3 linked regions of the Homo sapiens genome follow. The protein of the gene in region 2 purifies or fractionates together with the protein of the main gene of each other region. This does not show direct contact. Each region holds a gene or a part of one and is shown on either strand. Other genes may lie near its edges.

What was found.
Region 1: the proteins of TUBGCP4 (region 2) and MZT1 purify together in Homo sapiens (affinity purification with mass spectrometry; 3 studies listed by BioGRID and IntAct, with this or other methods). This does not show direct contact.
Region 3: the proteins of TUBGCP4 (region 2) and NEDD1 purify together in Homo sapiens (affinity purification with mass spectrometry; 3 studies listed by BioGRID and IntAct, with this or other methods). This does not show direct contact.

Annotation. Positions count from the first base shown.
Region 1 is NC_000013.11:72,715,856-72,727,065, forward strand, and holds part of MZT1 (mitotic-spindle organizing protein 1), read right to left. Parts: intron 3,243-11,210; coding exon 3,097-3,242; intron 1-3,096. UniProt on the Homo sapiens protein: Required for the recruitment and the assembly of the gamma-tubulin ring complex (gTuRC) at the centrosome.
Region 2 is NC_000015.10:43,371,586-43,382,795, reverse strand, and holds part of TUBGCP4 (gamma-tubulin complex component 4), read right to left. Parts: intron 6,699-11,210; coding exon 6,570-6,698; intron 6,342-6,569; exon of another isoform or gene 6,294-6,341; coding exon 6,171-6,293; intron 5,783-6,170; coding exon 5,729-5,782; intron 4,950-5,728; coding exon 4,893-4,949; intron 2,713-4,892; coding exon 2,633-2,712; intron 1-2,632. UniProt on the Homo sapiens protein: Component of the gamma-tubulin ring complex (gTuRC) which mediates microtubule nucleation.
Region 3 is NC_000012.12:96,937,272-96,948,481, reverse strand, and holds part of NEDD1 (protein NEDD1), read right to left. Parts: coding exon 11,089-11,210; intron 8,074-11,088; coding exon 7,945-8,073; intron 5,906-7,944; coding exon 5,858-5,905; intron 4,923-5,857; coding exon 4,720-4,922; intron 3,844-4,719; coding exon 3,687-3,843; intron 2,790-3,686; coding exon 2,633-2,789; intron 1-2,632. UniProt on the Homo sapiens protein: Required for mitosis progression. Promotes the nucleation of microtubules from the spindle.

The sequences.
Region 1 (11,210 bases), on a different chromosome or scaffold from region 2:
CTGCAGAACTATGAGCCAATTAAACCTCTTTTCTTTACAAATTATCTGGTCTCCGGTTTTTTTGTTTTTGTTTTTTTTTAAGAGGAAGTCTTCCTCTGTTGCCCAGGCTAGAGTACAGTGGTGTGAATCTTGGCTCACTGCCACCTCCGCCTCTTGGGTTCAAGTGATTCTCTTGCCTCAGCCTCCCGAGCAGCTGGGATTACAGTGCCTGCCATAATGCCTGGCTAATTTTTTTATTTTTAGTAGAGATGGGTTTCACTATGTTGGCCAGGCTGGTCTTGAACTCCTGACTTCAAGTGCTCTGCCCACCTCAGCCTCCCAAAGTACTGGGATTACTGGCTTAAGCTATCATGCCCGGCAGGTATTTCTTTATATCAATTCAAGAATGGACTAATACAGAGTCTACCATAAAAGTGAGGATAGTAGTTACTGGAGAGGAGAGCAAGAGAGAGGGGTTAGTGACTGGGGAGAGGGCAGAAGGGGGATTATCTGGTGCTGGCAGTGATGGTTGCATGGATATTCTCTTTATGATACATTTTAGCTCTACAAATGTGGTTTACCCTTTTTAGTTAGATTTAATAATCAAGAGATTTTAAAAAGCACAAAAACAAACCTAAAGAATAAGAACTCATTGGAAAATAATCTGAAAGATATGTAAATTGCATGTTTTAAATAGTTGATTTCTTAAAGGTAAGAAAAAAGAGAAGTCACTTTGTATCAGGTATCAGAAGGTTTTATTTGTTTGTTTGTTTTTCCCCCCATTGACCGTCTCTATGAGCCCATGTTTTGGACAAGTTTTAAGATGAACTAACTTAAAGTTTCAGTATTCAAAGTGAGTTAGTGCTATATAAAAAGGGAAATAAAATCACAAGCTTTTAAATCAGAAAGTCTGTGGAAGACAGAATAGGACATGTTTTTAGTTGCCAATCTGAGCAATTAAAACGTGGTTAATTTGAATTGGAAAAAAGGTGGCCCTCTGGGAACCTGGTGGCAGCAGCAGTCCCATGGTCTCTGAGGCGCTCTTGGAGTCACTTTTTCCTTTTCTTGAAGGATAACACATGGGCCCTCAGCTGAGCAGCTCTATCAGCCAGTTTCCTGTCTAAACAATCCCACTAATCTGATAGCCTTCTTTCACTTCATCCTGTCCAAGCTGGCAGTGTTTGTGTTGAGATGGTTGACTGGCTCTATCACATACCTAATGTCTTCACAAAAGTGTAGCCACACTCTTAGCCCTGTCTCCAGAACATGTTATTCAGACAGGCTGAGAATTTTCTAAATTCTCAGATGCTAGTTCCTTTTCTCTTAGCAGGTCCTTACTCGATTGCTCATTTGTGTCACATTATTAAGCAGCAAAAAGAAATCAGGCTACACCTTCCACAATTTGCTTGGAAATTTCCTCAATGAAATATCCAAGTTCATTGCTTACATATTCTATTTTCCTTCCAACAATAGAACACAATTCAGCCACAATCTGTCACTTTCTTTTTTTTTTTTTTTTTTTTAGATGGAGTTTCGCTCCTGTTGCCCAGGCTGGAGTGCAATATCGCAATCTTGGCTCACTGCAACCTCTGCCTCCTGGGTTCAAGCAATTCTCCTGCCTCAGCCACCCAAGTAGCTGGGATTACAGGCATGTGCCACCACGCCTGGCTAATTTTGTATTTTTAGTAGAGATGGAGTTTCATTATGTTGGTCAGGCTGGTTTTGAACTCCTGACATCAGGTGATCCACCCACCTTGGTGTCCCATAGTGTTGGGATTACAGGCATTAAGCCACTGTGCCTGGCCCATTCTGTCACTTTCTAACAAAGACCACCTTTCTTTTAGTGTCCAATAAATGTTCCCCATTTCCATCTGGGTCTTCACTAAAAGTGCTTTTAACATTTACATTTCTAGCAACATTCTGATCCTAATGTTAGTCTCGAAAAAACTCTGAAGCTTTCTCTACAGTTCTTTTCTCTTCTTTCTGAGCCCTCACCAGAATTGCCTCAACATTCACAGTTCTACTAACAGTTCCTCTTCAAGGAAATCTAGTCTTTTTCTATCAAGCACCTTAAAACTTTCCAGTCTCTATCCAATACCCAATTCCAAAGCCACATCCTCACTTTTAAGTATTTGTTACAGCAACACCCCACTTCCCAGTACCAAAATCTGTATCAGATTTCTGGGACTGCCATAATAAAGTAACCACATATTAGGTGGGTTAAAACAACAAAAATCTATTTACAGTTTGAAGGCCAGAAATCCATACCTACTATACATATTTAACCAAGGCGTTAGCTGGGTCATGCTCTCTGACAGCTCTAGGGGAATATCCTTCCTTGCCTCTTTCTAGCTTCTTATGGCCACAGAAAATCCTTAACTTTCCTTGGCTATTTGTGTCCAAATTTCTCTTCTAAGGCCACCAATTATTGGGTTAGGATCTACCCTAATCCAGGATGACCTCATCTTAATTTGATTATATCTGCAAAGGCATTATTTCTAAATAAGGTCATATTCATTGGGACCAGGGGTTAGGACCTCAACATGCCTCTTCTGGAGCAGGCACAATTTTACTCACCAAATAGCACAATTCTAAAAACAGACTTCTGGGAAAACATAACATGGTCCATGGTAGTAGTAATTTTTCTTTTTTTTTTTTTTAGACGGAGTCTCACTCTGTCACCCAGTCTGGAGTGCAGTGTCGCCAACTTGGCTCACTGCAAGCTCCGCGCCTCCTGGGTTCACGCCATTCTCCTGCCTCAGCCTCCCAAGTAGCTGGGACTACAGGTGCCCACCACCACGCCTGGCTAATTTTTTTGTATTTTTAGTAGAGAATGGGGCTTTACTGTGTTAGCCAGGATGGTTTCGATCTCCTGACCTCATGATCCGCCCAACTCAGCCTCCCAAAGTGCTGGGATTACAGGTGTGAGCCACTGCGCCCGGCCTAGTAGTAGTAATTTTTATGATATGAACATACACTATTGAGCTCCTGGTCTTCTAGTGGTGTTGCATGTTAGTTTAACCTTGTTTAACCAGGATGTTTCCCATAACTTCATCATTAATCATTTTTCTAAATAAAAGCATCTTTATTTAGAATGAACTAATAGGAATCTCCAACCTTCAGTGCTTCAGTAGCCTTGCGAAGCTCCTTAATAACCGATGATAAAGCTTCTGGGTTAATTCCTTGTTCACAAAGCCGTACACAAATAGACAGAGTTTCCATATCTAAGCCAGTATTCAAAATTCTTGAAATCTCAAGCAGAACTGAAAAAAGATACAAAAAAAAAAAAAACTTAAGGCTTACAGCATTTAAAAATATGCATATAGTACTTTCATTAATTTATATATCACTGCACAATACCAAGGAATTAGCATAGCATCCCAGGTTTTGGAAATCTGCATGTAATACTTTCTTGCCTTTACTTAGTTTTAGAAACTTAAATATAAATATAAACTTACACCTTCCCTTCACATAACTGCCTTTTACATCTTGCTATATATTCTAGCACTTGTTTAATATCTAACATGTATCCACCATACTTAGGATAATTCTGAACACTTGCTTATTTTTTAGTATTCTTTTAAAATGCAGTTTAACTAGTCGCATATTATTCCATTTTATGGAAACACTATACTTAACTACTCTGTTACTTTAAAAGTTAGGCTGCTCTCATGTTTCTCTCATTAAAATAATATTGGTAAGAATCTGTACATACTAAATTTTATTTCATTAGGATAAATTTCTAGAAGTAGAACTGCTCAGTCAGTAATATACATATTTAATTTGCTGAATTGACATACAATAGTCAAAAAAAGGTAATGTACATATTTAAGGCTTTAAAAGTGTTTAGAAACTTTTATAACAATTTGACAGCGTAATCATGTCTGTTGAATCTAATAATAAAAATGAAACCTTATATTTTTTAAACTTCATTTGTATAGTACTGCATTTTATTGTAGTTGATAGAACTCATTGTCTTTAACATGAGAAGCACAAACAGAGAAACTTGGTTTCCAAAGTGATTTTCAGAATCCCTTCCATTACAGGTTGTAAGTACACCGGTTCCACTGAATTTTGTTTTAAGATTGCTTCCCAGAGAGTATTTAGAATATTTTAAGTCAACTGTCAACATATTATCTATTGTTTCCTATATCATTTCCCCTTGGCATTATGCTTAGAAAATTATTCCCCATGAAAAGATTATATCCACCAGTATTCTCTTCCAGCACTTTGAAGTTTATTTCCCAAAACCCCCCATAAGTATTTATCTCCCTAGAGTTTGGGTGGAAAATAGGATCTAACTTTTCCTCCCAGAAATGAGCCAGTTGCCCCAGTAAAATTTATTGAATGACCTAAGTTTTCCCCACCCAGTTGAGATGCCACCTTTATTCATAGTAAATTCCCATATACTTACAAATTTGTTACATGTCTATCTTTTGTAAGGGCAACCATTTAATTTCTAACTTTATATTGCATGTAGTAGGGTAAACATTCCGTTGTCATCTTTCATTTATATAAGCCATTTTATTCTTCGGATGAACTGAACATTTTTCATCAATTCTAAAAACAAATTCCAACTGGATTCTGATTAACTGTATAAAAACTACATTATTATTTTGGGAAGAATGGACAAGTTATCAATATTTAGTCACCCATTAATTTAAGTCTAAGTCTTTCTGAAAATTCTTATAGTATTTATCATGTTCATGAGATAGGTCCCTCCCATTTCTTCCATATCAGATATTCACTTTCATCCCTAGAAGTTCAATTTGAGCCGGGCGCAGTGGCTCACGCCTGTAATCCCAACACTTTGGGAGAGCAAGGTGGACAGATCACCTGAGGTCGGGAGTTCGAGACCAGCCTGACCAACATGGAGAAACCCCGTCTCTACTAAAAATACAAAATTAGCCAGGCAAGGTGGCGCATGCCTGTAATCCCAGCTACTTGGAAGACTGAGGCAGGAGAATCGCTTGAACCCGGGAAGTAAAGGTTGCGGTGAGCCGAGATTGCGCCATTGCACTCCAGCCTGGGCAACAAGAGCAAAACTCTGTCTCAAAAGAAAAAACAAACAAACAAAAATAGCAGTTCAATTTGAGTCTTAAAAAAAAAAATGTCTTTCATGCCTCTACTAAACTTTTTGGAGATATGGAGTATAGTTCTGATGCCCTTGTCTGCTAATTCTAACATCTGTGTGATCGGGGGGGTGTTCGTTACAATTGACTGAATTTTTCACATCATGGGTCATACTGTTCTGCCTTGCATATCTGGTAATCTTTGATTGGATGCCATGTACTTAGAATTTTACTTAGGTACCGGATAGTTTTGTATTTCTAATTCTTGAGCTTTATAATGAGATACCGTTATCTGGAAATGGTTTGATCCTTTCGGATATTACTTCTTAGATCTGTTAGGCAGGACCAGAGCCCTGTTTAGGATAGGGCTAATTATTCCCCTTATGATTGAGGTAAGAATTCTGAGTACTGTATCCAATGTCTTATGAATTACAAAGATTTCCATTCTGGCTGGTAGTTACAGGCACTATCCTCAGCCCTGTGTAAGCACGGTGCACGGTTCACTCTAATCCTTCTAGATGGTTCCCTCCCAGCTTTCTGAGTACTTTCCTCACACATCTGCTAATCAATGCTCTGAATACTTAAGGGGGACACTTCTACAGATCTCCAGCATTCTTTCTGTGCAGTTCTCCCCTCTCAGGTACTGTTATTCAAACTCTACCTGCCTTGGTCTCCCAGGTCTTCTAAACTCCTCCTACTCACTTCAGTGTGTCCACTGGGTTCTCCCTGCTATACTGAGGCCTGGAACTCTCTGAAGGCAGTGAGCTGGGGCAACCCAAGAAATCACTTTGCTTGTTTCCTGTCTCTAAGGGATCACTGTACTCTGATGCCTGATGTCCAGTGTCTTGAAAACCATTGTTCTGTATGCTTTACCTGAGTTTTCTTGGTTGTTTCAAGTAGAAGCATAAATCTAATCTCTGTTACTCCATCTTGGCTGGAAGATGACAGCTCTTCCCATTTTCATTTCTTCAGTTTTGATATTCCAATTTACTGATACTTTGCTCTTCAGCTGTATCCAGCCTGTTATTCATATTATCTGCTGAATTTATTTCAAATTTATTTCAGTAGCTTTCAAGATTTCTAATTTCTAATTTCTCACCATAAACACTTGTTTTATAACTAAATGCTTATTTATAGTGACAAATTTCACAGCTGTTGTTCCTGCCTTCGTCTATTTAAGGCTATATTCTTAAACTGTATTTGAGATTGCTCTATTATCTCTATTTCTTGGAGTATAAGCAAGCAGCAAAAGACAGTGGTTAGGAGTGTGATCTCTAGAGCCAGACTACCTGTGTTCAAATTCTAGCTGTAGTATTTAGTAGGCAAGTTACTCTCTCTGTGCCTTATTTCACCATTCTCGAAAGTGAGGATAATAAGAGTACCTGTTTTAAAGGATTAGTGTGAGAATTAAAGGATACACTTAGAATGGTATCCATTTGTTTTGCTGACACTGCCTTGCAGTCCTTTGGAATGGTGCTTGGCATACGGTAGGGCTCAATAAAAAAGAGTTCCCTGTTACTACCACTTTCCCTCTTTTTCCTTTTCCATGTTAGTTGCTCATGTTTTTCATCTACCTTAGGTGCTTTGTCATTCTTGGCTGAAAACTCATCTTCCATAGATTTATTTTAGGTGTCCTGGACTGGTGGCCCATTCTAAGATAGGAAGCCGTACCCTAGCTTTAGGCCTCTAGATCAGGCCTTGTAGTATTTTTGGTCCAGATCCAAAAAACACATGGATGGTGCTTCTCAATCTCTGGCTGTGACAAATGGCACATTTCTGACTCCCAACTTCAGTGAGGCAGGGTAGCATGCTTTGTCAGATTCTATTCCCGACAATCCCCTGCTGTGGTTCCCATCTGCTCCTTTCTTTTGGGGGGAAACCTCTCTCTTCCTAATCAATGGAGACTTCCCTTCTTGCTTTTGAACAGGTCTATCCTGATAATTATATTTTCTTACTATTTCCTATTTTTTTATATGCTTAGAGTTTCAGCAAGTGCTCAATCTACCATATTGAATCTTCACTTTATTTTTGACTGTCTTCACAAATGGATTCTACTTAGCCCTTGTACATTCTAAGTGGTTACCATCAGTATACTGGAACACTACATATTAAACTTTTTAATCACCAGTCACCTTGATGAATTCTATGATGCTTCTAACAGTTTTTCAGTTGATTCTCTCCCTTCTCTCTCCAGTTTCCAGTTTGTTCTCTTCATGGTAGACCCCCCCACGTATAAAGGCTATGCTTATTCCTGACTTCATGCCTTTGTTCTTGCTTTTCTCCTCTGCCTTTTATCCTCCCTTCATATAACTCAATGCTGTTTTCTTAGTCCATCTCATTTGTGGTTTCTTCTTTAAGCCTTCTTTTCAAATGGACACCTATTTTTACTTCCTATTTTCACAAATCGCCTGTAATCAAAAACTATTTCTTTAGTGCCTACCATATGATCAGTACAGGTTGAACACTCCTAATTCCAAAATCTGAAATGTGAAATGCCGCAAAATCCAAAACTTATTAAGTACTGACATAACACCGTAGTGGAAAATTCCACACCTCATATAATGGATCAAAGTCAAAATGCAGGTGCACAATACACAGTTCATTCAGCATCCCTGAGGGAAAAAACCAAAATTACCTTCAGGCTATGTGTATAAGGTATATATAAAACATACAAGAATTCTGTGTTTGGACTTGGGTCCCATCCCCAAGATATCTCATTATGTATGTGAAAATATTACAAAAAAAAAAATCTGAAATCCAAAACATGGTCCCAAGGTTTTTGGATGAGAGATAATCAACCTCTAACTATATGTATTTTGTGCCTATTATGCTACTGCTGCAAATACAGTTATGAACAAGGTATATATGGTCCCACTCCTCACAGATATTAGTCCAGGAGGAGAGATAGATATTAAAGTAATAACTGATTCCAGATATAAGTAAAATAAATAAAGAGTGGAATACTTCTGAAACAAATTACAAGGGCATCTTACCAAGTTTGGAAGGACACAGTGTTTAGCAAAGACTTGTCTGAAGAAGTGACAATTACACTTAGACATCAAAAGTGAGTAGAAATCAACCAGACTAATACAGAGGCAGGAGGAAGGGTGATGGTTGAGAGCAAAGAAAACAGCTTGTGTGATGGTCCCTACACTAGAGGGAACTTGGTAAATTCAGACCTGAACTGCTATTGTGAAGGCAATGTAATTAACGGGGTGAATGGGTATAAAATATGAGGTAAGTCCTAGTGAAGATCTTAGAACTGTGGAAAGCTACTGGATGATATAAAATAGGAACATAAAAAAATCAAACTTGCATTTTAAGGACTTTTTGGCTGAGTATCAAATGAATCTTTAAAAAGTCCAGTTATATCACAATTTTGATAAAAGACTGGTGGGTAGGATGAACAGGAGATATTTAGCCAACCTGAAATGAGTCAAGAATTGAAAGGGCTTAGTGAAGAACAGGAGGCAGAGGAGGTGAGAAAGCAAGACTGACTTCTAGATTTCTTTCTCAAATGTGCAACTGGATTGATGGTGGTAGCATGGACTGTTTCGCTGGTACTGCCTTGCAGTGCTAGTCAAATGGAATCTATATACCATAGATTCTCTTAACTCCTTTCTCTATAACGTGTTTTTTTTTTTTTTTTTGAGATGGAGTCTAGCTCTGTCACCCAGTCTGCAGTGCAGTGGCGCAATCTCAGCTCACGACAACCTTCGCCTCCCAGGTTCAAGCGATTCTCCTGCCTCAGCCTCCCAAGTAGCTGGGATTACAGGCACCCGTACTTACTACTAAATATATATATATATATACATATATATATATATATATATACACATATATATATGTAAAGTGGTGCTACAGGCCGGGCACAGTGGCTCACGCCTATAATCCCAGCACTTTGGGAGGCTGAGGCGGGTGGATCACCTGAGGTCAGGAGTTCCAGACCAGACTGGCCAACATGGTGAAACCCTGTCTCTACTAAAAATACAAAAATTAGCTGGGCGTGGTGGCGGGCGCCTATAATCCTAGTTACTCCAGAGGCCAAGGCAGGAGAATTGGTTCCCATCCCCAGCTTCAACCTGGGAGGCGGAGGTTGCAGTGAGCCAAGGTCGCGCCACTGCACTCCAGCCAGACTCGGTCTCAAAAAAAAAAAAAAAATAGTGCTATGATAAAGCCTCTCATAAGGAATAATTATCAAAATTAAAATTCAGATGCACAGGACGATTTTAGAGGAAAATAAAAATTAAGGTATAAAAAGCAATCAATAGAGAGTACCTAACATACCAAAAAGTTGAAAAGCAAAAGAGGCAACCATACACAGTGGGTTGCGAGGGGGGTGTTGTTGAAAAGGCACGACTATTTTAAGCGTGTAGAATTTTAGGGATATAAGGATGAAAGCAGAGATCTCATGCAGACCTTATTCTAAATTGGCAGAGATAGTTCTTTTCAGAGTGAGGTGCACAGATAATTTATTAATAGAAAGTTAGCCTGCTTCCTTCCATGTCTTTAACAAAATCCTTTCATTTCATGATCAAAATGCAAATGTAGCCAAGAGTTCTGCAATTCACATGACTTAAAGGGAGGTTCACAAATGCTACCATTGAGGGGAGAAATGGTATTCAAAAAGTTTTGAAAATTTTATTTTTGATCTCACGGGTTGATTTAAATACTGTGTAACACCACATCCCCTCTCCTTCATTTTTTGTTTTACTTCACTTTTTTGTGTTCTTACTCTCTTTATAATCTTCATTTCACACCAAGTTTTCTCAGAAGAGATCTTGATGATGCAGCCAACACAAACCATCAGTTCTCAATTGTACATCAGTGATTCCACCAGAGAAAATGTGAGTTTTCTGTTCAAATGGGATCCTGTGGCCATATACATAAGGAACCTAAGTACAGCTAACCTAAGAAAATAGGCTAGAAGTGAGGTCTTATACTCTACCTTTTTCCAAGGAAATATACAAGACAGTAAATTTATATTTATATACACACACATATATATATTCATACATAAATCCACTTACAAAATAAAACTATTAAGTGTTGATACATCGAAAAGGATAGAAAAATAAGCTGAATATTAAGAGTAACATTCTCAGAAAAACAGCAAGGTAGATACTGAACAAGTGAAAAATTAGATGCAAAGGCTCTAAAAGTGTAATTCTTTGAAAAGAAAACCAGGACCAGTGCAGAAAAAGCCAGCAGCCCCTCTGCAAGTGCTACATAAGAAAATGAGGCCGGGCATGGTGGCTCACGCCTGTAATCCTAGCATTTTGGGAGGCCGAGGCATGTGGATCACCTGAAGTCAGGAGTTCGAGACCAACCTGGCCAACATGGGGAAACTCCGTCTCTACTAAAAATACAAAAAATTAGCCGGGTGTTCTGGCGGGCACCTGTAATCCCAGCTACTCCAGAGGCTGAGGCAGGAGAATCGCCTGAACCCGGGAGGCGGAGGTTGCAGTGAGCCGAGGTTGCGCCATTGCACTCCACCCTGGGCAACTACAGCAAGACTGTGTCTCAAAAAAGAAAAAAAGAGCCTACGGTGAAGGAGAGAGAGATACAGCAGTGAGAATTTCATAGGGTTATCTTTTAACAGAGACGGAAGCTGACGTGAGTAGACCCTGGAAAACGTCTAGGCCCACTGCAAATAACAACATCGATCAAACACTCATAATACAGGTGGATGTGAGTAAAAAGGAGACAAAGAAAGAAGACTACAAGAGAGAGGCCATCTGAAATAATATAAAAATAATTGATCATCTTTGATATGTTTTTACATGGTTGTCTTATTTAAATATTCACAACTCCTGGAGGTAGGGTTTTATTTTACAGAAAAAAAAAAAAAAAAAACTAAACAGGCTCAATGATGTTTAAGTATCTAGTCCAAGCTCACCACAGGGGCATAAAGTGGCAGAACCGACATTAGAGGGTAGACAGAGGGTAACCGCAAGACACAAATTTCGTGTTCTGCAACACTTGTGTAGGCTTCACACACACGTGCCTCCGGGGCCGAAAACAGGCGACACCATAGCACTTGGGCACTGGTGTCACCCGCTTCAAGAGGAAACTAGGATAATTATGACCAAAGGGGAACTTGTTCATTCGCCGGATATTAAAGGTGCCTACTTAAGTGCGAAGAACAGGAGGCATAGC
Region 2 (11,210 bases):
GATATTCAGATGGTCTCAAAGGATCACCCACCAGATAGCATATTAATTAAAAAGGGGAAAATGTACCTCTATAATGGAGCAGGACGTGATGAAAACACCTAAGCCAAGTGATCCAACTTCATAACATCCGTGATGGGATAAAGTTACTTTCTGTACCTTCTAATATGATGTAATGGGAAATAATATCACCTACATAGTATTCTTGCCAAAAAATGTTTAATCTGAATCTAATCATAGGGAAACAATAAATCCAGATTGTGAAACATTATACAGGACAGCTGGTCAGGACTCTTAAAATGTCAGCGTCATCCAAAACACCAAGAACAACAAAAGGCAAGGGGGACGGTTCTAAATTAAAGGAGACTAAAAAGACATGAGAACAAAATGTAGTATGTGAACACTGATCGGATCCTGGATTGCAAAAAAAGAACAGCTATGAAGGAATTCTGAGGGACAACTAGAAAAATTTGGATATAGTATTACTGAATTAATGTTAACTTTCTTGGGTGTAATATGGAATTGATGTTCTATAAGAGAATCCCTTTTTCTTTTATTTTTCTTTTTTTCTTTTTTCTTTTTTTTTTGAGACAGGGTCTCACTCTGTTGCCCAGGCTGGAGTGCTGTAGCACGATCATGGCTCACTGCAGTTTCGACCTCCTGGACTCAAGCCACCCTCCCACCTCAGCCTCCTAAGTAGCTGGGCCCACAGGCGCACACAGCATGCCTACTTTTTTTGTATTTGTAGAGACGGGGTCTCACTATGTTGCCTGGGCTGGTCTCCTAGGCTCAAGCTATCCACCCACCTTGGCCTCTCAAAGTGCTAGGAATACAGGTGTGTGCCACCATGCCCAGCCAAGAATGCCTTTTTTCTAAAGTGATACAAGCTGAAGTATTTAAGTGTTAGGGTATCTGTGACTACTTTCAAATGACTCTGCAAAAAAATTTGTGCATTTCACATATACGTATAGAAGGAGAAAAAGAGAAATCAAACGTGGCAAATGTTAACAAATGGTGAAACTAAAGGATACACTAGCGTTTGGTTGGTTTTTTTTGTTTTTTGTTTTGAGACAGGGTCTCATTCTGTCATCCAGGCTGGATTACAGTGGCGAGATCTCAGCTCACTGCAGCATCAACCTCCTGGGCTAAAGCAATCCTTCTGCCTCAGCTTCCCGTAGCTGGGACTACAGGCAGGCACCACACCTGGCTAATTTTTTTATTTTTGGTACAGACAGGGTCTCGCTATGTTGCCCAGGCTGGTCTCGAACTCCTGGGCTCAAGCGATCCCTCTGCCTCAGCCTTCCAAAGTGCTGGGATTACAAGCGTGAGCCACCGAGCCCAGCCTACAAGTGTTTTATTATACGTTTCTTTCAACTTTTTTGTAGGTTTAAAATTTTTCAAAATAAAAGGTTGGGAGAAAAAGAAATTACAAGAACTTGACTGTGTTATTTAACTGAATGGAATCTCTCTTTAAAAAGATCAAATGTGAAGCTATTTACATTTATGCATTTCTGAGTATGTGGTCTGTAAAGTTTGGTCCCTGCAAACACAGAACAAACATGTATATATAGTATCATCTACATTAGATTTTATATTCTATACACAAAAGTATAATAGAGAATTAAGTCCCTAAGGAATGTTCTGGAGGATTTACTCATGCAGTGGTTAGAGTGGAGATTAAGAGTTGTGAGTGGCCGGGTGCGGTGGCTCACACCTGTAATCTCAACACTTTGGGAGGCCAAGATGTGAATATCGGTTGAGCCTAGGAGTTCGAGACCAGCCTGGGCAACATAGCAAAGCCTTCTCTCTACAAAAAATTAAAATAAAATAAGAAAAAAAGAACAAAACAGAGTTGTGAGTGGCCTCAGGGATCATCTATTATAATTTTTCAATGAATGTCACAGTTTTTTTAAAATAAGGAAAATGGATAAATGGAAAGCTCAAACAGGCAGTCTTTGATTATACTCTACATGTTTTCATATTGTTGTAATCACAAGATAAATACAATTTTGTATCATTTGTCAGTACATATTTATATAAAATAGTTTACATGTTATAGTACCTACACTTTTAGTGGCTTTATAGTCTATCAAGTGAATATATCATCATTTAAATTTTTTTCTACTGTTGGTAATTTTCTAATTTCCTGATATAGTAGACAACATTGCAATGAACACGTTTGTGCATATAGTTATTTTCTTCTATTAAATAGTTTTGTTAGGATAAAATTCCCAAGAGTGGCATTATGGGATTATAAAGCATAAACATTTTTAAGGACCTTCAATTTGAAAATACCAGCTACTCAAATACACATGTTTAGACACAGCAAGCAACATCTGGCACATGTAATGGAATTCCTGCAAGGATAACAGGATCTAAACATTTAAAAAGATTGCCTCAAGGTCATCCAGGCACCTAAATCCTGGCTTTGTCACTCAACACTCTATAGCCCTTTTTGCAAGGCCTGAGCCATAATAAAGGTTACATGGGCTCCTCTGCTCATGGAGCTTTTTCTATCCTGGTTATAACCTTCCCAAGAGGGAAACCTGAAATGACCTGAAAATAAAACATGTGAGAAGTCAAATAATTTGACCACCCACCTCCACCACCAATTCCCAGTTAAGCCATGACTTACTTTTCCAGTGCACTTCGAACAGGAGGCAACCCCCCACAGCTGTGTTTGTAGACTGTTTCCAGGATTTGACAACCATGAATCTGTGGAAAATACGGCCTTGTCAAACTGGATTCCATTCTAAGAGTCCATGCAAGACACATTCTTATTCCATATTCAACCAAGAGGGCACAATCTAGGAGAGACTGGGGATAAACTTTCTCCTAAGATTTACACATAGTGGTTCTCAAAGAGGGACCTCTCTCCCATCAGCAGCATGACCTGGAGACTCATCAGACATGCAAACTCTTGGTTAGAACCCAGCACTCAGTGTTTCCACAAGCCCTCCAGGTGATTCTAATGCACAGTAAAGTGTGAGAACCACTGCACTTAAAGCAACCAGAATCATTTAGAGTTGGAACACCAAAGCCAAGGAAAGCTTTTTATTTCAAGTTAAGGCCCAATTCAGTCTACTTCTAAGGTATATACTTTTTCAAAAATCCTCTGCCTCTATGTTCTTCAGACTTTTTTTTTTTTTTTTTTTTTTGAGACGGAGTCTTGCTCTGTCGCCCACGCTGGAGTGCAGTGGTGCAATCTTGGCTCACTACAAGCTCTGCCTCCTGGGTTCACACCATTCTCCTGCCTCAGCCTCCCGAGTAGTGCGACACAGGCACCCGCCACCACGCCTGGCTAATTTTTTTTGTATTTTTAGTAGAGACAGGGTTTCACTGTGTTAGCCAGGATGGACTCAATCTCCTGACCTCGTGGTCCGCCCGCCTCGGCCTCCCGAAGTGCTGGGATTACAGGCGTGAGCCACCATGCCCGGTCCCCAGACTTTTATTTTTACCACTTTGAGGTATAATTTACAATGAAATTCACCCATTTTAAGCATACTAATAAACAATTTTTAGTAAATTTCAAACACTGGGCAACCATTACCACAATCCAGTTTTATAACATTTCCACTACTCCAAAAAGCGCCTTTGTGCCTGTCTGCAATCAATCTCCATTCTCAACCCAAACCTAGAATTTTGACCACCTGATTTTAAAAACTCTGAAGAGCCTTGGTACACTAGTTTCTCTACCACTATTCTGGCAGGGAGGAAGATTCAGCCATCTGCAATCCCCCTATTTTCCACTCTCCTTCCTATAGCCAGCGGAAGTTGAAGGCCAACTGAGACGTGCAGCTAGGCCTGGCTCCCTTATGCTGTCCTCATTAACTCTATTTGCCTAGAATGTCTCCTTTTATTTTGGGAGATAGTTTAATCTAGTGGTTAAGAGCACACTCTTTGGAGCCAGATAGAGCTGGGATATAAACCCATTTACTACTATCTGTGTGACACTGGGCACACCCCTTAACCAACTTAGCCCTTTAGTGGATTGTGTGTGATAATGTATTTAAAGCACTTAGCACAGTGCCTAGTACACAGCCAGTGACAGTAAAAGCTGGATGTTGTTATTTGATGAGGACAATCAGCTTTGAAGGGCCAATGAGCACCCACCACTGGCTTTGCTGGCACAGCATGAACATAGCAGAGCACTGTTTCTACACTTACACAGTTAAAAATGATGCAGCAATGTGGCAGATTAACTGGTTTACTAGTTACATTAATGAAAATGAACACCCCTAATAAGCTAAGGCACAAATAAAGAGCTTAAAAAAAATGACGACTTGAGCTAAAGATGTTTAATCCATTTGTCCACTTGGTCCAATTGTGGACCAATTCAATAGGACAGCAGATTCTTCTAATATGAAATCTCAAAGCATTTATTCCTCAGACTTATTAACTCTGCCCAGAAAGACATTCTCCTAACTTCTCAATACACCTGATAAAAACTTGTGATAAGAATAGGCATATTTATTAAACATCTGGCTTTCACTCACTGATCTCAAAATTCTCAGAAAACTGCCAGCACACTAACCATAAACCTATTACCTTCTTCCTAAGAATTAACTTTCTGCTTCACACCCAACAGTTCTAAAACCTTACTGCAGGTTCCTCTCACCTGCAAACATCCACAGCACTTTTTTTCTTACCCCAACAACATTCTTGGGAACATCTATGAACATTTCCTCTACCTTCTGGACCAGGAGGTGTTTAAAGGCAGAGTCATACTTTTGCATTCCTGACACTTAACATGATAACCAAGCAGATATTGTTAAATGAATGAATAAATAAAAACTACTAAAAACTAGGGTCTTCGAAAAATAATGTAAAGCAAAATTAATTAGTAATATTCCCTCAGTGCTTAGCAAAGCAAAAGGAATAAGGAAAGTTCTCACCTTTTGACTTTTAATTTGTTCTACTACAACCATCACAGAGGGAAAAAGAAGCTGGAACTGCAAAGTAGAGAATAATTAGAAGGGTATGTAATCAAATGTAAGGGAAAAAAAATCAACTTGGGAAATGCTTTTGTTTCTAAATAGTTCAACTTAAGATAAAATGGCAATACCACAGAACAGTCAAGATCCAGCATCCTAAGGCAATTTGATGTGGAGGTTCGCTGCAGATAGGAAGAGGATGGCAGAGAGAGGCAGTTTCTTTTTTTTCTTTTTTCTTTTTTTTTTTTTTTTTGAGACAGGGTCTCACTCTGTCACCCAGGCTGGAGTATAGTGGTAGGATCCCAGCTCACTGCAACCTCCACCCCTGGATTCAGAACGTTAGCCTCCCAAGTAGCTGGGACTACAGGTGCACGCCACCACAACCGACTAATTTTTGTATGTTTAGTAGAGACAGGGTTTCACCATTTTGGCCAGGCTGGTCTCCAACACCTGACCTCAAGTGATCCAACCACCTCGGCCTCCCAAAGTGCTGGGATTAGAGGTGTGTACCACCATGCCCAGTCGGGAAGCAGTTTCTATTTCTGAGGCTGGCATACTTGTTAATACTGATGTCCATATAGAGCAGTAACATTAGCGTTAATATCAGACATTAAGTTTTAACTATATTTGGAAATCTTTAAACAGTTTTGATCTAGTAAAACATACAAAATGCACAAAATATAAAATGTTAGGCTCTGAATCCAGAAGAAAAAAAGTTCTCAAAAACAGTACCATAAATTAGATTATTCTAACACTATCAACAGATTGCAAGGCATTTGGTTATTTGGGCAGCATACCTGGTCTAGGAAGTAGTTGACATGTGATATGGAGAGATGGGGATCACCCAGGAACTGCAATAAAAAACTTTGTGATTAGAGCTCCACACAAAATATCTCAAATCTATTTGATCTATGAAAATGAGAAGAGAATCTCATGATGGGCTTAAGTGTTAATTTTAGGCTATCGAGAACTGATAATTTAATCAGGTTATTAATCCTGATTTTCGGGCCATAAAGAAACCAAGCCAGGGCTCTTATAAACTCACTAAAGAGTCTTTGCCATGATCTGTAAGCCACTCTGATCACAGGTTGGGCAATCACTGAGAGAACACTGTACCTTCCAGCCATGCAGGCAACTGCTCACTCTTAACTACCTGATCTTATCAAAGGGCATTTCAGATTCAAGAACATGCCCTAATCTACTGTCCCAGAGGTGTTTCCTATATCTCCTCCTTCTTACCTCTTGTTCCAAATCAAGCAGTGCTTGGCGATAAGGCTGCAAAACAGAATCCAGCCCTGTGCAGAAGGCCCGCAGGTAGATTCCATGTAACCCACCTTGGCCCTGTTGAGATGGATGGTGATCCTGAAATCAAACAAACAGAAGCCAACTTCTCAGCTCAGGCCCTGAAACCTGAGAAAGACATTATCAGGCTTGTTTCTTTTAAAAGTTATACAAACAAACCAATTAGAGGCCTTGCCTTCACTTGAATATTTCTAGTGATGAGAAATCCATAACTTATTTCACATGAATTACCGATAAATTCACTGAAAGCTTGACATAGCTCCTGCCCTCTAGAGGTGAAAGCTTGACATAGCTCCTGCCCTCTAGAGGTGTACACCCACAGAGAACAGGACCCACCTGCTGTTGCACATGGCCCGTGTACTGTTCAATGAACTCAGTGAAGCGAATATAGTCTGTGCCGAGCCGGCAGAGTCGATTCAGGACACTGGTCTCACTGGGGTGGAGGAAAGGGAAGTCCTGCGATACCTGCAGGAAGAGGAACACTGCCGAAAACACCGCCAGTCGCTGCCCCAACTTTCAGGTGCTTCAAACGCTTCATACTACACATTTATCGTTTTCTTTCTCAAGATGTCCACTTAAAGGTGTTAAGTTCTGGATAACAATGTATTTCCAAAGCACTTCAAAGGGGTTCCCTATCCCTGACCCAATTATTTGCTTCTTAAAATAGGTAACACATGCTAAATAATTTAAACAATATAAAATGGTGTACATTAAAAATAAGTCAACCACCCCAGAAGCAGCCGCTATTACCTGCTTCTTAAGCAATCTTCTAGGGATGGTCTCTAAGGATATGGGGGTTTTGACCTGGTTGCAACAAAGTCTCTTTAGCAATATTGCTCAAATGGGGGTCTGCAGACTCCATGGGTTTCTCAGACATATTCTTAGGATTTACAAATTCCCTATAGAAGTTTTCATTGTTTTCATTCCAGTAAAAATCTAAAATTAAGCATACCTATTATCTGTAAATGCACCTTATAACTGGCCATATATATTTAGTGTCCATATTTACATTTGTATTTTTAATTTAAATGAAAGCCAAATGATAGCCTAATATGCTATATACAAAGGTTTCACAGCAGTTCAGGTAGAAAAAAGTAGTGGGAAAATATATTCCTTCAACCAACTTTTTAAAAATACTGTGGTAAAATACGTATAATAAAATCTACCATTTTAGCTATTTTAAGTATATAGTTCAGTGGTATGAAGAACATTCACACTGTTGTGCAACCAGCACCACCATCCATCTCCAGAACTTTTTTGTTTGCCCCAAATGAAACTCCGTATCCAGCCCCTGCCAAACACCACTCTACTGCCTCTGACTTTGACTACTCTAGCTACCTCATATAAGTGGAATCACTCAGGTCGGGTACAATTGCTCACGCCTGTAATCCCAGCATTTCGGGAGGCCGAGGCAGGTGGATCACCTGAGGTCAGGAGTTCAAGACCAGCCTGGCCAACATGATGAAACCCTGTCTCTACTAAAAATACGAAAATTAGCCAGGCGTGGTGGTGGGCGCCTGTAATGCCAGCTACTTGGGAGGCTGAGGCATGAGAACTGCTTAAACCCGGGAGGCGGCGGTTGCAGCGAGCTGAGATTGCACCACTGCCCTCCAGCCTGGGCAACAGAGCGAGACTCTGTCTCAAAAAAAGTGGAATCATTATTTGTCCTTTTGTGACTGGCTTATTTCAGCTCATCCATGTTGTAGCACATGCCAGAATTTCCTTCCTTTTTAAGGCTGAACAATATTCCCTTGTGTGTATATACCACATCTCAATTACCTATTCGTCCCTGCACTGACACTTGCTTCCACCTCTCAGCGATTGTGAATAATGCTTGGTGAACACGGGTGTACAAATATCTGTTGGGTTCCTGCTTTCACTTCTTTTGGGATATACCCTGAAGTAGAACTGCTAGATTGTATGGGAATTTTATATTTAATTTTTTTTTTTAGAGACAAGGTTTCACTCTGTCACCCAGACTGGAATACAGTGGTGGGTTCATAGCTCACTGTAACCTTGAACCCCTAGGTTCAACCAATTCTCCCACCTCAGCCACCAGAGTAGCTAGGACTACAGGCATGTGTCACCATGCCCAGCTAATTAAAAATTTTTTTTTTGTAGAGATGGAGTCTTGCTCTGTTGCGCAGGCTAGCCTCAAACTCCTGGCATTAACTGATCCTCCAGCCTCACCCTCCCAAAGTGCTGAGATCACAAGTGTCAGCCGCTGTGCCTGGCCTTTATTTAATTTTTTGAAGAACTGCCATACCATTTTCCACAATGGCTGTACCATTTTACATTTCCATTACTATATCCCAGGTACTGTGCTAATACTTTGAGATAAAAGAGTGAACAAAATCAGATACAATTACTGCTCCAAAGGAACTTAGCATATTATATGGATGGATATATAATATGGATTATATGTGGATGCCATTTTATATGACAGTAAATGTGGTAACAAATAGGCGAAGAAGAATTTTTCTGTTACCAAGTCCATAGAAAATTGATTAGGAATCCAATTAATGTAGATTTTAATGACACAATGCTAATCACATCTTCAAGTTAGTAACTTAAGAGGTTGCACAACACGGTGCTTAAGAACCTGGTCTCTTGCCGGGCGCAGTGGCTCACGCCTGTAATCCCAGCACTTTGGGAGGCCGAGGTGGGCGGATCACGAGGTCAGGAGATCGAGACCATCCTGGCTAACACGGTGAAACCCCATCTTTACTAAAAAAACTACAAAAAAATTAGCCGGGTGTGGCGGCAGGCGCCTGTAGTCCCAGCTGCTCGGGAGGCTGAGGCAGGAGAATGGCGTGAACCCAGGAGGTGGAGCTTGCAGTGAGCCGAGATTGCACCACTGCACTCCAGCCTGGGCGACAGAGCGAGACTCCATCTCGGAAAAAAAAAAAAAAAAAAAGAACCTGGTCTCTGGAGCCCAACTGCCTGGGTTTGAATCCCTGAGTTGCCTCTTACTTGCTTGAAAGCTTAGGCAAGTTACTATACCTGTCTGTGCCTGTTTTCATACCTATAAACTGAAGAAAATAATTGTGAGGATTAAATAAGTTAATACATGTGTAAAGCACATATCCCAACCACATAGCTAGTGCTCAATACACATAAGCAATTTTATATTATTAACAAGACAGCTCTACCAGTTATCAAGTGATACTACTATTAAAATTGGCATTTGAGCGTTTCTTGTTGGCAGAGTTTTCGAAAAGTTCAATATCTAATTATTCTGAAACAGCAAATAATAACTCGAAGTTACTGATACCATTCTATATAACACAGTTATAGGAACAGGCTGAGAAATCCTGCATTAGAATAATGGTCATTTGAACTTATTGATTTGGTAGTTTTGTTTACTTTTAATTTATAAAAATATTTGATTTTATAGTTGTTTAAGAGTATTATGCTTGAGTTTATACCTAGCTTATGTATATACATATTCAATATAATAAAATAATTTTCATTAACACTTGGCACTCATGACAACTTTTCCCTTTACTCAAATGTAAAAGACACTGCTCTGCAGAAATTATGTAATATTTGCCATCTTTGTCTTCTTTTCTTCCATCAATACCTAAACACCTGCTATGTGGCAGAAACTGTGCTAGGTGCTCTGGGTAGATGAATGAAGAAGACCACTGGTCTTCGCTCCCAGGGGCAATCTATGCGGGAGAAAGGCTAAAAACAGGTAACAACAATACATTATGAATTGTGACAAATCCTACAAGGGAAATAAACAAGTTGATGGAGAATAATGGCATCAGGGGAGGATGCTTAAAGATGTGCTCAGAGAAAGTTTTTCTGACAAAGTGACTTTAAAGCTGAGACCTTGAGGATGAAATGGTAGAAAATACATGATTGAGAATTTTTCATAAGAAAGAAAGGAAGGGAAAAGATGAATTACTTGTGGTTGTCTCCCCCACCCCCTCCCTAGCTATCTTTCCTGTACTGTGTTATCTCTTCTTATTTTGGACCATCAGGCACCCACATACTTCCTAAATACTGTCCTCCTATATGCCTGGCATTGTACTAAGATCTATGGAGAAAAGTGAAACATCGAATTAGTCTTCAAAGACCTACAGGTGAAAGATAACAATTCAAACTCCACCACACAAATCTTCACCTGTTTTTTTCAAAAATTCACCTAAACTCCCAAACTCCAAATACATGTTCATAAATAATAACGAAAGGAAACTGTTTGATTTATAGGTTTTATAGACTAAGAATGTACTTTTTCTGCTCTTCCACAGTCTCCTAAGAATCGGCATGTCTTGGTGATCAGACGGACCTAGATTTCAGTCTTGCCACTACTAGGACTGGCCAGCATAAAGTTTTCTGAGCTTCAGTTTGCTCATTTGTTAACTGGTAGAAACAATACCTAAGTGGACTAAATTATTGAGAGCATTAGATAACATTACTGGAAGCAGAAGCAGGTAAAAGTAGTTCAAATACTGAAGCCAGACAGACCTGGCTTCAAAACTAAGCTCTGTTAATTACTAGCTATGACCCCGATAGTTATTTAACTATTCTAAACCTAGCTTAATCTGTAAAATGGATAAGGTGGTTGTGAGGATTAAATAAGATAATGCATACGGAACATCATACATTCCTGGTTACACAAAGGCCCCCTACCAAGTGCTTTACCTAGTGCAGAAATTTTCTGGTAAAGGAGTAATGAGGGAAACACCACACGCTCTCGATTTCATTTATTTCCTTCAACAAACTTTACTGAGCGCTTACCATGTGTTTGGGAGCTGTGTATTTGGCCCAGTACTTCAAAACTCAAACAATGCACGTGTGAAAATAAATAGGAGAAAGTGCCTCCCACACTTCTATATCATTCCCCAGCAACTGTCAGACACCTGGACCTCAGGCCCTTTCCTCGCCCCGCCACAGGTGGGGCTCTTCGAGGTCTGCCCTCCGTTTTCTAGCCTAGGCCCGGCCTCTCTAGGTGTCGCATCAGCCTTG
Region 3 (11,210 bases), on a different chromosome or scaffold from region 2:
AATGAGGAGTTCCTCTTAGGAGAAAAGAGACCCATGACTAGGAGAAAAGAGACCCATCTTCATGCCCTTGACAGAGTAAAAAGAACTAGCTGAAATTTTAATAAGATTTTTAAAAGCCAAGTAAACACTGCTTGATAGTTTAGAATTCCAAGGGGTCCCAGCCACAAGGAGAGTCTCAATTTACTCACCAACTTTTTCCCACAAGCCTTCATTCAGCGCTCATGTAAAAAAAGTAGGGACAAGTGTAACAGGAGGGCTGAGGGAGACTCCCTAAGATACAGATGCACAGAGCCTGGTGAAACCTTAGGGCAGCAGAGAAGAACTGAGAGTAACCCCTCTAAGGCACTCCAGGCTCTCATGGAGAAGATGGCAGCCACGGGAGGATGGCTGAGAAAGAGGTCCTCAATACCCTCTCTGTCCTGCCAATGATAGGTGTAGATGAACACCTAGTCTGATGAACACCTAGGCAAATGGCAAAACAAGTGAATTTATGGAAATCCTCTGAGCCACTCTGGGTCTTCACTGCGTCCCAGGCAGAGGCTGCCTATGGTCAAAGGGCAGAAGAGCTGAGAGAAGTCCCTACCCACCACTCCTAGGTGCAGACATGCAGCACAGGGCAGCAAAACCAAGAGGCACTGACTGTACGTCTTCACCAAACGTGCTGCAGCAGCTCTGCAGGGCTGAAAGTGGGACAGACACACTTCTCCTGAGGCACAGAAAGCCAGGAACAGGTTAGATAGTGAAAAACAAGCTCCAGCCACCCCGAAAGCTGGCAGCAGGGCAGAAATGCACAGCGATTTCAGAGTTGCTCCAGCACTCAGATCCCTGGGTCTGCTGAAGGAAAGGCCCTGAGCCCACTGTCCTCAAATCATCTGAAGCCAGTGGTGAACTGACACCCAAATGCTTGTTGAATAAATGGGTAATAAATAGACAGCACCCATTACTCCTGTGCTTAAAAACTCTGATGGCTCTCCATTACCTGTGTGTTAAGACCTTCACAACTGTCCCTCAGGCCTGGTCTCTTACCACGGTGCCTTCTCTCTGCAAACATTCCTAGAATGTATGATCATGTCTCTGCTCAAGCTGTTCCCACACACATCAGTATAAAATAAAATCTCTTCAGTGTACCTTTCTAAATCTGCCCCCACAGAAGAACTGCTCCCTTTCTGTGATTTCAACATCACTTTGCTCACACTGTATTATAGTCAGCTGTATCCAGACAGTTCTACTATTATGCCATAAATATTTATGCACTCCTGAAAAAAACGTATATTCTTTAACACTGTGTATTAAAAATAACAGAACTTAGGGAAAAAGGATTAGGGCAAAGCACTCAAAAACCTATGCAACTTTGTAACCAGAGCACAACAAAAACAATTAAATCCTAATAAAAATACTAACATAGTTAAAAAGACATAGTAAAAATCTAATAGATAATTATTGAATAATACCCTTACTGTGAAGAAGTGATGGTCACTTAATGGAAGAGGATAGAAGGATTGCGGCTATCAAGTTACAGAGGCAAGAGCAAAATGCCCAAAGATGGGAAATAATCACAAAATAAGTACTTCTAACAGACCACACAGCCAAGCCAAGAGGAAGTGAATAAAAAGAGATGGATGCTGACGGGGTTTGCTGCATTCAGCTGTGTTCAGGTGTACTTTATTTTGGCTGCTATTACACGAACAAACAAAATTTCCTCATCATATTGTCAACAGTGTTCTATTCTACTGATCCCAAATGAATTAATTCACATTAAGAGAAACACACATGGCAGAACACACTGCACCTAGCCCAACTACATCACAAGGCCTTTGTGGCAGATCATTTGATGTATCCTTAGTATCTGGTACATATACTAGGTAGGGTAAATGCCAAAATTACAATTTTTCTTTAAAAAGTATTTTTCGACATTTAAAAATATATTTTAAAAGTATTTTAAAACATTAAAAGGAAGCATGCACCAACAAAAACTGCACATTTTCTCCAACATTCTTGCTTACGGTAATCCAAATCTGAGCTACAACATTAACTATAGGTTAGAAAGGAAAAAAGGCACCAATGATTTTAATAATTGAAGATAGCTTCCAAAAATATTGAGATGATAAAAGAAAGCAGCATTGTAGAACACATTCTTAGAATGTTCACAATTCGAAGGATGAGACAGACAAGGATAAGTCTGAGAAAGAATTTTTTTTAGATTAAGTATTACATTCTGATGCATTCTATTGGAAAACATTCAGAATTGTGCTTTAAAGTATCTTTTTCTACTACATTATTGCACACAGCATACCTAATAGATCTATGAACATACTGCAGGTTAAGAACCCAATTTAAGCTTACCAGAACTTGTCCACATTTTAATAATAAAAAAAGTTCACAATGGCAGTCTACCTGCTAGACTGCCCTGCTGAGTTACCTAATAATTGCCCTAGGTAAATGTGCCTTTTCCTGGCTCATAATCAATAAATGCAGTACGAAAAGATCAACAAAACTCATTATGTTTTCTATGGCTTTAGGATTACCAGAACCTAGACAATAGTAACCAACAACATTATCTATAGTTCTGGTTTTACATCTAAAAAAAAAACAAGTAAGGTCTAGATAGAAGGAGTAGTTTCTCAATTACTACCTAAAGTCATCCAACGTTTCCTGTATCATGTTCTGAATAAAACGAATTTGAATGGAAGTCAATGGTGCATTTTGCCGGTTATTTCCAATGCTGTCGGCTATTTTTTCTGAGAGTGAACTGGCAACTCCAGCAGTGACAGAAGATGCTATCTTTGGATCTAAAATAAAGAATGAAGAAAATATTAATAGTCAACTTGGACTGAGAGACATCAAACATTTCTAAATAAGATTTGGCATGTGCAAACTTGAAAAACTGGCAAAGAAGAGTGTTCCTGTGACATTTAGAAAAATTCACTGTCTGGAATACAAATCTTAGAAACTTTCTATAACATTATTTCTAATAGTCATTTATCTATATATATAAACTGCCAGCTGTCTAATGTAATACCACATGACAGAGGGATTAATCTTGAAGAATCTATGAACCATTTCCTCTTATAAAAGATGAATGTGACAAGCTGCACCATAAACTAGATAAACCAAGACTATTAAAAACAAACCGAAGGAAAATAGGAGTAAAGTACTGCTACAGGAAAAGCCTTAGAGTTTAAGCTAATGCAATATATATCCACAGAAAACTTCAAGCAAAATATAGATATTTATATGAGAGTTGATTGTAAACAAAGAGTTGCTTTGTGTAGATAACTCTTAGAGTTAAACCAAATATTCCTTTAAATGTGATGAAGTTTGTATGGGTCTGCAGCACAAACTCTAAGGATAAGACTTTAATATGAAAGAGAAAAAGACATTTTCAGGTAGTTAACCAACCCTTTTCAAAGGGTCCTACATAATAATTCTATCTCTACCATATTAAAGACACATATTACACTGAAAATCTAATTCACACCAAAAGATCAAATCAACGTACCTGAATTTAACGATTCATATCCATTTCATTGTCTTTAGTAACACTCACACAACAGAAGTGTCCACAAACTTTAAACTCTTTGAACATTTTTAGTCTATGATTACTCTATTTCTCCTTTACAAGTTAAATAATGGGGATGATTTTTCAATCAAACACTTTCAAACATCAGGAAGTTTCATGTACTTACTTGGAGTTGAGGATCCATTGATTGGGGGTTCACATATCAACTGGGCTTCAATTTCATTCTCTGGCTTTTCAAATTTCTCAGAATTTCTTGTTTGGTTAGATGATGGAGAGGTATTTAGATTTCCACTTTCAGCACCAGATGTGACCAACTTTGCTAACTTTATATTTAAAATAAATAATGACTTTAATATACAATTTTTTTACTCATATTACCCATATAATTTTTGCCTACTTCTCTCTTTTGTCCCAGTATGTAGGTTAATAGAAATGAAGGAAAATAGGAAGAGATATAGAAGAAGAAAAAGAAAAAGAGAACTGGAGGCAAAATAAAGTAACACTTACTAATCAAAAACAATCTCAACAATAACATGAGGAAAAGCTCATTTACTAAGCACCTGCTGTTAAGTATCATTTAAAATAGAGATAACTGGCAAAACAAAAACAAAAACACCATGCATGTGGTAACCAGTCAATAATATTTGCAAAATAAATCAAAAGATGTTTTTGTACTTCTTACATGGTATCTTTTCAATATCATTCTAAACAATAAATACGAAAATACAGACATATTGTATACCCAACTGGCTTGGCCTTCCTGGTAATTTTTGATCATTTTGAACCCTTACATAAAAAATTAAATTCTGTATTATATATATATATTTTAGCAGAAAGTAACAATGATAAATTCCATTCTCAGCACCATCAGTTTGCTCTAATGATTTAACCACCAACTTGATGTTGTATACTGCAATGAAATACACTTTAAAAGGATTCAGGGATAAACTGTTCTTGCACACTTTATCAAGATATATCAAGTATCTCATCTTAGAAAAATACTGCAACTTTCCATCTGCTGTAACCTTCAACATATCCAAAGCGAGATTTCAAAGTATTCTGTAGTTATTAAAATCTGACATCAAGACTTATGAATAAGTGCATAGCAATGCTAATAATTAGGATACATGCACTGGCAGCCACCCACTTTCTACTGATAAACACATACAGTGAGTTCAGTATCATTTTCAGGCAAATACCTGTTTGAAGGAGTCTTTAGATTCCTGTTTTCCCATATATATTTTCTTAGACTCAGCTGTTAGATCACGGTTTTCATTTTCCTCTTTCCCTGGAGATCCCATAAAAACATTAAGAGGACTAGAATGCAATACTGAAGTACTTGAAGTTACTGGATTTTTTCTTGGAGGAAACACTGAGTTCAACTGCGGTAGAAAGTCAAAGCCTGGAAAAGGGAAAAACTGCATGTGCATATGGTGTCCTCCAATTTTGGACATTGAAGAAAAGCATTTAACATGATAGGCAGATTAACATGGAAGAAGATATGGATCTGCATTCTGAAGACTGGTTTGTTTCTCAGATACACCCCGCAATTGATGTGTATTTTTGGGCAAAAGTCTTAAACTTTCTGTGACTATTTCCCGATCTACAAATGTAAATGATGATATCCATCTCCCAGAGTGGTAAGGCTTCAAAGATATTATTTGTGAAAATACTTTGAAAACAGCAAAACACAATGTTTTAGTCAGTATTAGTTCTTGATAACTGAAAATTGTTAATTTGGTATATATCTGTGGTATGTATCTTGGAAGGCAATTTCTGAGATGGCTTCTAATGACCCCTGCCTTTGGCGTCGCTATCCTTGGGTAATCTCCTCCCTTTGAACGTGGCTTGGACCTAGTAACTTGCTTCTAACAAAAGTAATATGAAAAAGTAGTGAGATGTCACTACCAAGATTAAGGTTATTAACATAATCTTAAGAGAGGGCTTCCATTTTGGATGCCCTCTCGAATTCTCTTGTTCACCGGCTCTGAGGTAAACCAGCTGCCATGTTGTTGGCTGCCCCATATATAAAGAAGCTCATTGGCATGGAACTGATATCTCCAGCCAACAGCCATAGGAATGAGCTTGGAAACAGTTCCCTGCCCAGTTGAGTCTTAAGTTGAATGAAGCTCTGGTTGACATCCTGATTGAAGCAGGAAGATAGACTTGAAGGCAAAGGTACTCAGCCAAGTCATGCTCAGTTCTTAATACACAGAAATTATGAGACGATAAATGTTTATTTTTTTAAGCCTCAAAGTGTTGGAGAGATTTGTTACACAGCATAGATAATACAATTCACTTTTCATTTTCACGAAAATACTTCTAAGTAGTTCTTACCATCTCCTTTGCCTATGGACTCATCACTTCCCTTGTTAACTACAGCATCTATAACAAATTAGAAAATCAAATTTTAAAACTAGTGAAAAAGAAACCATATCAATTTAGGCTTCTTATTCATTCCCCAAAGAGTTCAGAGACTAACAATCTTAAAAAGCTAAATATGAGTGATGTTAAAGGTAGGAGAATACTGATTTAAATTTCTCTTTTACATTATTTTAGCTTCATTCACACTTTAGCAGCAAATATGAACAGATAATTCTATAGTACAGTCATTTAATGAGGCAGCAAGGTATAGTGTAACAAGCCCTGGTGTAGGGGGTAGGTTATGGAGAGCTATAATCCAGTTCTGCCTATACCACTTAATAGCTTTGTGACCTTGGACAAGTCTCAGATGCAATTAAGTTTCAGTTTCTGCATCTATAAAATGGGGATAATGTCCAGATAAGCTCACAAAATTGCTTTGAGGATCAATTGAAATAATACAAAAATATTTTGCAAAGCAGAACAAAGTTTTATTAGTGTTTATTTCCATGGTAGAATATGTATAAGATTATTTTAATCCTGTAATATTCATTTGCCAGTCCATAACAAAAATTGTAAAATTCAAATTTAACAGGTGAATTAAAAATGAGCCAAAGTCATTAACGAATTTACTAGAAATTCAAATGGCCAATAAACACACAACTATATCAGGAGAAATATCATCTATGTGCATGTGTGTATATGTTCCCAGTAATTGCACAGCATGTACATGCACACTTTTAGAAGTTATTAGCTTCCTTATCAATACTTTGGAACCATAATGAATCTGGAGGGCGTATGACTCAAATGCTAGTAACATTTTTAAACATAGCAAAAGTAATTAAAGAAAAAAGTAATTTATTCATTTGTCTTAAAAACTATTAAAGAGAATTTAATTTATAACTCAAACACTTCCAAAAAGCCCCTTTGTACATTCTTCAATGCAAAAGTTCCTCCAGAGGAGTCTCACTGGCCAAAACTCGCAATTCAGCACTAATCCCAGAAACCTTTCTCAACTCCAGCACTAGTCACTTTTCTCTCCACCTACATCCGTCCCTCTGTTTACCCTTTACAATGTAGTTTGATGTAGTTCGACTTCTCTTCATCCTGAAAGAAAAGAATCCTTCCTCTTTCAGTTTGACTTAGCAATTTAAATAGAAATTTGCAGGCCAGGGTAAGGCAGAAGATACTCAATAATTCTGTACCACCACGTATGTATTTATTCCTTCTGACTATAAAATTGTAGAACATTTGGAAAAGAGACAATTTTAAAGTAAAAAATGAAATTGTATAAGATAATGAGTGGATGAAACAACTTCGAGATCCTGCTGTTGACATGGTACACTTATAATAATAAATACACAAATCTTTGTGGGCTTCTCTGAGTATTTTCTGAGATAAATTTGTAGAAATGTAAATACAAGGCCAAAAAGTATGAATATATTAACTCTGTCAAATTACCCTCTAGAAATGTATCCATGTTATTAATATTGCTGTTAGCAATGAGGTAACTCCATTCCACTAAGAAAAACATTATGGATGTTAGTACCAAAAAGACACACCTAAACAATGTACTTAGTTCAGACACTATGAAGAATAACAAATAATGCTTCTATTTATCAAGCTGGCAAATTTGCTTTTTATTATGCCAACTTTTTTATGGGGTGGTGGGAGGTGTACACCTATACACACACAATTTTTTAAATTAGGAAGACTTTTTTGCATACCAAAACATCTAAAATTTTAGGAACATTAATTTAGAAGTAGATACAAGGGACAGATTGCCTATGAAGGTAAAAACTTCCTTCAAGAAACTTTTGTGGAAATTAAAATGCTAACTTGAGAGCTATTTGCATAATTCCCATGTGAAAATTACCAGCATATATTTTACAATGATAACATTTGAAATATCAGGGCAAAGAAAAAGATACCACCCCAGGGATGGAGAAAATTAGCAAACTGATCCGTGAATAGAGTTGGACTGAAGCTATTATTCACATCTTTTAGCCAGAATAAAAATATTAACTACCAGCAAGAGAACAGGATCCTCTGAACAGACTTACCATCTCTGATAGGTGAGAACATGTCACCTAAACTACTTTTCCCAGTATCATCAAAGCTGGAGAAATCCTGATTTTTTCCACTGTCTGTTTCCTTAGATAAAGTGTCTGTGTTTATGCTTCGAGGCAAACCTTATAGGAATTAGATATAAAAATCAATGTTATTACATCTAAATAAATTTTATCATAAGCTAGGTTGTAAAAATTAATGTATCACTCATATTGTTGGTAATATTACAACTATGAGCATAAGGAGAATAAAACAGAATATGACAAGAGCTAAAGTTAATCAGGATTTTCATGGAACAATAAAACAGAATATGACAAGAGCTAAAGTTAACCAGGATTTTCATGGAACAAAAGGTTCCTCAAAAGAAAACAGCTTATTTGTTCATACAGTAATACCTTATTTTAGCCATTTTGTTGGAATTTTTCTAAAATAATTTATATACTTTGCTGCTCTCTTAAAGTACACTGAACACAACTTACTTTTGCTATTGACTGACTCATGATCATCTACAAATGTGATTTTTTTTTAGTCTGTAAGGCATATAGAGCGATGCCTAACATACAGCAGGATTCAATTAATGTTACTTTTCTTCCCTGACTTGCAGTGAAGGGGTTTTCTGTCTTTTCTTTCACTAACAGTGGGAGCTTAACATTGCCCTCAGCATTACAGATCTCAAATGACTTCACTAACCTCCATAGTTTCAAAGAGGAAGCAAACCAGAACACCAAACTCATAAAGAATAGTAAGGTAGACAACAATAAAGAGACGGCAGCAGTTTATTTTTTCTGGCAGTGTATAAACACATGGCTTTAGAGTAGGGACCTTTTAAGAGGAGCTCAGCAGGCTCAGAAGCTTCTGTTTCATTACTGGAGTAACGACAGTTTTAGAGGTTCAAAAATTTTGATTAAAGTCTGCCATCAGGATTGGTAGCACATTACTGTATTACATTTTAAAAAGTGCTTTATTTGGCATCTCAGGCCCAAATGAAAAACTGAAAAGTCTGAGATGAAAACAAAGAACAGCCTGCATATCCAAAAATGCCCAAGACTGGCGAATAAAATAAACTTTTCTAATAACACCTGCTATAAAGTTAAAATATTACCAAATCATTTGTACTATTGTTGAAGAGTGTCTATAGCAAGAGTTCAGTTGTTACAAAGAAGAAATTTCCTCTCCTTTTTTCTAGGTCCTTAACATGTTTGAATGCATAACTCAGCCTCTGAAACTTTAGGAAACAGAAGTTTGGTATCATTTGAAAACAGCGCTAAAGTCTTATTCTTTTCTTCTTAAATGGTGATTTCCTTCTAAAACTAAGTACCAATAACAAGTTTAGAGAAGTTCTTTGAAATAACTGAATCAGGACAACTTCAATAGAAGCAACAGAATTTTTTTCTGAACTTTAATTTTATACAAAGCTTAAAATAATAATAGTGATGATCATGATGACCACAATGATAGTATCAACACCATAGTGTACTGAGTGCCTACCATGTGCCAGGTACTTCCAATACATTTTATCTGATTTTCACAATAACCCTAACAGTTAAATGTCATCTTAAATGTGTACAGGAAAAAAATGAGACCCAGAAAGGTTAAGAGAATTGCCTAAAAGCATCCTGGCCGGAAGTGACAGATCTGAGACTGAGTCTACTATTCTCAATGTTTCAGAGGCAAAGAAAAATGTGTGTGTGTGTGAGAGAGAGAGAGAGAATGAGAGACAGAGAGAGGAAGAGAAAGAGAATGATGAAGCAAATGTGGCAAAATTTATAAAGTGCATCTGCCAAAGGGTAATGCTCAGGAGTTATCTGTACTATTCTTAAAACTTTTCTGTAAGATGACAATCATTTCAAAATACAATTAATACACAAACATTGTTAATTTTGTGGGGGCAGAGCACTCACTTTGCCAGAAATGTTGGGAATCTACCAAGAGTTATCGTTAATCCATGACCCTGAAAGATCCAAGCCTTTGATTTGCAAATTAATGCTGTCTTTGTTAAACAAGAGCCTTCTTACTATAAAACTAAATGAATAATGGAGAGACTTCAGAGAGTTTACAGTGAATGAGAGAATCTTTATTTTGTTTAATTTTTGAAAATTTTGAAAAAAGATAATTTTCATAATATAGTTAATTCAACATGTTGGCAGACATTACTCAAAGTTATATTTCAAAAATAATTTCTTCCTTAAGTAGATATCAGTTGTCTTTGTCTCCAGGAGTTCCTAAATAAGAACTTAATTATTTTCCTAATATATAATGGCTCTTATATAAGGATGATACAGATATTCACAGGAAATTTATAGTGAATATACTTACTTTAAAATACTACTCCACACTATCAAGATCAACAAATTAAAGTTTTGCTTCTACTTGGAAATAGCAAAATCATGCTAAAAAAAAACACCAATAAATATTTTTGCCCAAGTATTTATCCTGAAAAATTTAAAAGACATGGATATATGTATTTCTACTAAGCACAATATTTCAGAAACATACTAGTATACCATGTAGACTTTCTAAAGTATTTGTTGCACGTTGACAGTATAGCATAACTTCTTAAAATAAAAATGAAAAGGTTTTCAGGAATTTACAGAATATTTTTTTATTGTGAGCAAGAAATATTTTCTACAATAAGAGAAAGCTTATCATATAACACATCAATAAAGTCTAAATGAATCCTGTTTCAGAACTGTTTCGCCAATTACATGAGAGAAGAAGAAATCATTAGAAATTGCAACATTCTCATTTATTTTTATTTAATGAGATCAAATCATAAGACAGTGTCAAAGTTTCATATTTTCTACTGGTTAATCTGAAGACACAATGAAAAGCCATTCAGTCTTTAGTAGTATTAAGGATGAATAATTTCTGAGTTAGCCTCCTTCCATTTTTAAGACAATATTTCTCACAAGAGAAGTTTAGCTAAACAATAAGGGCCTTTTATCATTTTTGAAATTAATAGCCAAAGTTACTATTTTCACTTCTTCAATGATTTTCACTTCTACTAATTTTACCTAAGTACTCAAATAAATTTGAGTTCTATGTTCTTGAAGAATGTGCTAATTATATGCAAGCCAAAAACAAAAAAACAAAAAAAAAACAAACCAACCCTCCAACAATATATAAGCAACATTTACCTGCTTTTTCTTGAACAGCAACTGTTCCTTTCCCCATAGCTGATGTCATAGGTTGTGGTAGAACTGTGGCAATGGACGTGGCAGGTGCTTCTCTGACAATTCCGGAATTCTGAACTCCTCCA